Regions from separate parts of the Homo sapiens genome. Here region 2 is reported to be linked to region 1. Evidence: microRNA targets listed by miRTarBase, many of them from high-throughput screens and not tested one by one. Region 1 holds a microRNA gene; the other region holds the end of a gene's coding sequence.
Evidence for each region. The annotated mature microRNA hsa-miR-4431 reads GCGACUCUGAAAACUAGAAGGU and lies in region 1 at 1,088-1,109, shown strand. An mRNA with a match to its seed (bases 2 to 7 or 8) in the 3' UTR can be bound and repressed. Matches are read on the target gene's strand: a 7mer-m8 pairs with bases 2 to 8, a 7mer-A1 pairs with bases 2 to 7 and ends in A, and an 8mer does both.

Region 2: the mRNA of E2F7 is a reported target of hsa-miR-4431. Seed matches in the 3' UTR shown: 7mer-m8 at 2,986-2,992.

What each region holds. Positions count from the first base shown.
Region 1 is chr2:52,700,547-52,703,696 of GRCh38, reverse strand. It overlaps MIR4431 (microRNA 4431), which reads left to right and starts at 1,082; the gene lies at 1,082-1,175.
Region 2 is chr12:77,021,587-77,024,586 of GRCh38, reverse strand. E2F7 (E2F transcription factor 7) reads left to right here. Exons shown (of 13, transcript NM_203394.3): 13 at 402-3,000. The coding sequence ends at 572. Among named protein-coding and RNA genes, the nearest start is that of E2F7, 42 kb to the left of the region's middle.

The DNA.
Region 1 (3,150 bases):
ATCCTCTCATTGCTTTACTGAGTCTGGATTTTGGAGCTCACCTGAGAATAAAAAGTTTGACCCTGGTGGAAGTGGGAGGTGAGACACATAATATAAGCAGCGTTCCAGAATAAAAAGATCACAGGAGGCACCAAAGTTGGGTTATTCACGACCTAGAGACTATTTTACACTATGACTTCACAACTTGAGTTTTAGGATCAATTTCAAGGAAAGAAGCAACTTTAGTTTATAGACTCTGATGTGTCATATATACTTACAAAGTATTCTCTCTTAACCCCACACATTAAAGTGAGAGCTGTATTATTTGTATCCAGAGAGCGTGCAAGAAACACAAAGTTTAGCTCCAAAAAATGCGCTGGTCTTTGTCCTGCTGAAACATTTTAGGATTGGCTAGGATTGGCCTATTGATTTATTGTTTAGGAAGAATAAAGTAGCAAGAAAGGGATAGGGCAAACAGCCCAGGAGACCAAAGCTTTTGATTTATTGACAAAACAAGTGTAGGCTTCTGGCCACTCTCAAAGCGACACCTTTAGAAACCAGAGTTTGTTTCTATTCTGGCTAACCTTGAGGACAAGTGAGTATGTCTGTTCTCCAAATCTTAGAGCCTAGTGAGGGCTGGAATCAGACACAGATCCGCCATTAATGAACAGTGAAGAGTTCTATGCTACTTTTATAGCAGTGAGACACAGTTTTTCTAATCAGCTGAGAAACTAATTTCTACCTTAATTCCAGTAAAATGAATAGGTGCTTTTTCATGGATAAGTTCCCAATAAAAAAGCTCATGTGGTATTGCTAGGGCTTCGGTGTTTGTCCCCTCCAAACCTCATGTTGAAATTTGATCTCAAGGTTGCAAGTGGAGCCTGATGGTGGGTGTTTGGGTCATGGGGGGCATATTCCTCATGCATAGATGAGTGCCTTTCCTCAGGGGTAAATTAGTTCTCATTCTATTAGCTCCCTGAGAGCTGGTTGTTAAAAAGAGCCTGGTACATCCTCTCTCTCTGGCTTCCTCCCTTGCCATGTCTCTGCACACTCTAGCTTCCGTTTGCCTTCTGCCATGAGTGGAAGAAGCTCAATGTTTAATTGGTTTGCGACTCTGAAAACTAGAAGGTTTATGACTGGGCATTTCTCACCCAATGCCCAATATTGAACTTTCTAGTTGTCAGAGTCATTAACCCATTAAACCTTTTTTCTTTATGAATTACCCAGTTTCAAGTATTCCTATATAGCAGCACAAAATGGACTAAGACAGGTATGTATATCATAATAGCTTCAAAAAGAGTGTAATTTATATTCTTTAAGTATTTGAAACTTTGAACTTTACAGTTTATGAGTATATCTGTAATTATAAGAAGGATTTAATCACAATAAGCATTGTTTTTGAAACTTTGTAATAAGCTTAACCCCTTTAGACAAATTAAAAGTAATCATTATTAACATTTTCCCTGGAGTTTTCCTGTAGCCATGTTTACTCTTTCCAAATTTGATGCCCTAAAGATAAAATGACATAATAGCTGAGGACACATGCTCTGCTGTTAGACTGCCTGAGTTTTAATCTTGGTTTAAATACTGTACTTACTGCCTGTGTAACCCCAATCAGGTATGTAAGTTCTCTGTGCCTCCATTTTCTCATCTGTAAAGTGTGACTAATAATATCTCTTCTTAGGGCTACTGAAAAAATTAGATAAGCTAACATAGGCAAAAGTACTTGGTACATAATATAGTACTTGGTAACTGTTTATTGCAATTATCAGTTTCTGAGAATTATTTTATAAAATACCTGAGTAAAATCAATTGTATTAAAGCTCCACAGCAGATCAATTCTGTGGCAGTAGAGGTAAGGCTATAAGATGGAACCTTAAATTTAAACTATATTCTGGGAGTGAGTAGGGTTGGTGATTTCTCCAAACAGTGGTGAGGTGGAATTTGCAAAAGAATGAGTGCTGGATGGATAAAAGACTGATTTTTTTCTACATTTGAAATACCAAAATTAGTGTCTAAATTATTGTTATCTCTTCAAACATTAGTTTATATTTTGTGATGTTTTAAAAATTGTTTAGGAGTCTAGTCCATTCTTACATGTTATGTTCTTGAAATGATTATTTTGTATGATACTGTGTTGCTCTCCATTTTGACTTAGTTTTTGTCTTATACAGGTAAAATCAGTCTTCCCCAGACCAGACAATCTGTTCATTCCAGCCTTCCAAGCTAACCCAGTGCTGCTATAATTGGTATCTTGGAATAGCCTTGAGTATGTGGACTTATACAACCACAGTCTAGTATATTACCATGCATTAATAAAAATAGCCCTGTATTTCTATGGAAGAGAGAGAAAAATACCCAGGGTAATCTTTAATATACTGAATTTCCACTTTGTCAGCTACATGTGGTATTCCTGTTATTTAGAATTATTTTTTTCTGTTAAACTGGACATAACAGATTGTGTGTATGTGTGTGCATGCCTGAGAGAGAAAGAGACAGAGACAGAGAACGAGAGAGACTTAAATTTCTCAGGACATTGCAGGTATTGTCTTCTGCACCAAGATACATCCAAAACAGTCAGGTCCATTAAACCAACATGGATACTCACTCTTTTATTCATTTGATGAATAAAATAAAAGAGTTATACTAACTCTTTTATTCCATTTGATGATATGGTATGGATACCTGTTTACTCTATTAGGCTTTTACTTTGCATTGAAATTGAAGCAACATAACATCAGTTTCCTTAGTATCGTGTTTGACTTGCCTATGCAATTATTTTCACATAAACACACTTAGATTTTTTGAAAATATCTATAAAGTTATAATTGTTTCAGCAACAATTTCCTGAGTGTACAATATATCTTTATATTTGTATAGCAACATTTTGAAAACAGTATGGCTGATTTACATTTCCCTGAAAATCTTGAGTATCAGAAAATATTCCTTTAAGCCCTCTCAATGATTTTGGGAATAGTAGATCTTCAGTTATTATATAGGTACATTCCAAGAAAGAAAGCAAAAGGGCACATGTTTCTCAGAAGCACTTTCATTTTGACAGATTTTATTCTCCAGAGATGATTGTACAGTATCTCCCATCCACACACTCTTCTGAAATGTTTCCTTGACTTTAACCCACCAAAAAGTAGAGCTGAATTTTCCATCCCATTG
Region 2 (3,000 bases), not on the chromosome of region 1:
ATGTTGGCCTCACATGCTCTAAAGTGCTTTACAATTATCTTATTTAATTCCTACAACCTTGTGAAGTCAGTAATTTTACCATCGCCGTTGGATGGAGGAAGAAACTGAGGGACAGGTTGCTTAAGTAACTTGTCCACAGTGGCAGAGCCCAGTCCCTGGCTCCAGATACCAAAGATACCTCTTTGGTAGACTGCCTTTCTGCACCCAAAACAACAAATATGAATTTAATTTTCAGTTGTGGTAAGCAGGGGAGACAAACGGGGTAAGTGTGATAAGAAAGCAAAGAAGAAGGAACGCCTGCCTTGGGATCCTAACACACAGGTCAAGAAAGGGCTGCCTTTCTACTCAGAGATCAGAAACAATATGACTTCACTTCTGTTTTTTCTTTTTTCTTTTTTCAGTCACCAGTTCCAGTGACCCCCAAGAGCATCCAACGCACACATCGTGAGACGTTTTTCAAGACACCCGGCAGCCTTGGAGACCCTGTCCTGAAGAGAAGAGAAAGGAACCAGTCACGAAACACCAGCTCGGCCCAGAGGAGACTAGAAATCCCCAGCGGCGGCGCTGACTAACCTGCCGCTTTGCCAGGTGGGGGTGGGATCAAACGCCCTGAGAGTCCCGGATGTCCGAGGCGGGATGCAAACCATCCCGTCCTGAGCACGGGTCCTTCCTCTCTCTTTCATCCACACTTCTGTTAACTTCCCACCACCATCAATCATCTGATTTCCTGAAAGTAATTAATTGTGCATTTAATACCAGTTAGAGTTCCGACTCTGCATGGTGTCACAGTGAAAGCGCCGACTGACTTATGGTTTTGATTCAAGAATCGTCTTATTCTGGAAGTAGATCTGAATAGGCTACCGGAGCCTTGTTTTTCTAAAGGGGGGCGCTGTCTAGCACTTAACTAGGGTAAGCATTCTTAACATGTATTTCCACTTGCCCTGAGTAAATCTGTGGTGAGAGAAGCTTCCTTTCTGCAGTTTAAAAAAGCTACTGCTTCCTTAGGCTTCATCAGGAAGCCACCTTCAGTTGTGAATCCTATGGTGTTATTTATTTTGTTCCTGAAATGGGATTTAGTGCAAAAAGTTTACAACTACAGTCTTTAACACATTTTTTTCAGGGTATGACGACTTGAATGTTTATACTTTTATTCTATAATTTGCCCTGCACTTATTTTACAACCTAGTAATAATGTGGATAAATGTATCTACATGACACATGTCAAGACCAAAATAACTGTGAATGACACACCTTGCTGTAAATGAACTGTGCTAACCCTGACTGTGGGCTTGAGAACAAAGATGAACTCTAGAACTCTAGCAGCCTAACTGCTGCTTCTCAAATAACTGTGTGAACAGTGAGATATTACTGTTTGTTTCTAAAAATCCTACTGTGCCCAGTTTCCTTCACTACATGCCCTGCATTTTTTATTTAAATATTTAGCTGTAGCGCCATCAGATATGGATGCCTTCTAACAATTGCTGTTTGTAAAATAAATCAGGATGGTAGAAAGTGATTATATGGAAAATTGGAACCTGGATGAGACCTTTTCGTTGAATTCTGAAGAGTAATGATGTGAAAATTGATACAGGGCAAGAGATGATTCTTTTGTTTTTCTTCTACTTCATGTCCAGAAGAGTAAGAGGGAAAATGGACATATGTTTCATATCCAAGGGTATTCAAACTGTAGTTAGTTGGTACCTCTGAAAAATGAGAATGGTGAGCGCACGGGTTGGTTGTTCTAGCATGAATACAATTCTGGAAACTGTTATGCAATTTCCCTTTTTTAACCCACATTACTTTAGGGGTGCATTAAGTCGCCAAACTATACTAGTTCTTTGTATTCCTAGACTTGCTGATATTTACCTCTCTCTTGTCTCTTCAGAGTAAATGGTTCCCTTCTTTCCTTCCTACTTTCCTTCATTCTCTCTTCCTTCCCTCCTTCCTACTTCTTTTCTTCCTTCCTCTTCCTCTCTTAAAACTATCTTAGATGTAGAATCCTGGTGTAGGGTTTTATTTTATTTTTATTTTTTGACCCAATAAAATGTTATATGAAAGAATGAAAATATTAATTTAAGAGACTCTGGGAGTCTGAATAAAGTAGCTTTATATTAACTACAGGATAATATTAGCCTTATTACCCCCACAAGATTTTTTAAAACTTGAGGTAGGTAGCTACATTAAATAAATTTGCTACTTATATAAAAATTTTTATCAACACTAAACTTTTAAAGTTTACAAGTTTTTTTTTTCTTTTTTACAGTCTTCTATAGAGTTAGGTTAAAAATGTGGTTCTAACCATCAACAATTGCATGGTTAAATGACCCTGAACTAAAACTGATGGGTTCCCTATCAAAACAAATAAAAATATACCTTTTTCAGGTTTCAATCTGTGCAGGGTATATGCATGTTAATTCTACCATGCTTAAGAACTTCCACAAAATATTTCATGGAGAGGTCTGCATTTAGACGGAAACAGAAATTGCTTTTCCCCTCACTGTTCCTGAATGCTCTATACTTGTTTTAACATTTTTGCTATCTTTTTTTATTATTCTGATCATGATATGACCATTTAACCTCAGAATTCATAATTCCTGAGGGGTGTTAAGAAGCAGTCCCATTGGTGAGGATATTATGACTTGGTGACCATTCTTAGGAGTAGAAAACCAAGGACAATTGCTTCTGTATTCAGTATCCACTTCTTAATGTGGCTTTATATGTAAAAATAATAATGCAGTGGTTGTTTCTGTCAGGAAAATAAATCTTACAGAACAACTGGTGGAATTGAAGCTGCTGCGCTAGACTTGGATATTTTGGGTAGTGAAGAAGCAATGGCAATCTTGAGTCTATTATTGTATAATTTAGTAAAAGAAAAAAATAATCGTTGGTGGTCCTACTAAGAGAATGCAGCTTTTTTGAGTTGTCACAGAGGCTGTGTGTGCCCTACACTGACCAGGGTTTGTAAAACCCTTTCATTCTGGTACAAGAGTCGGGGGTATA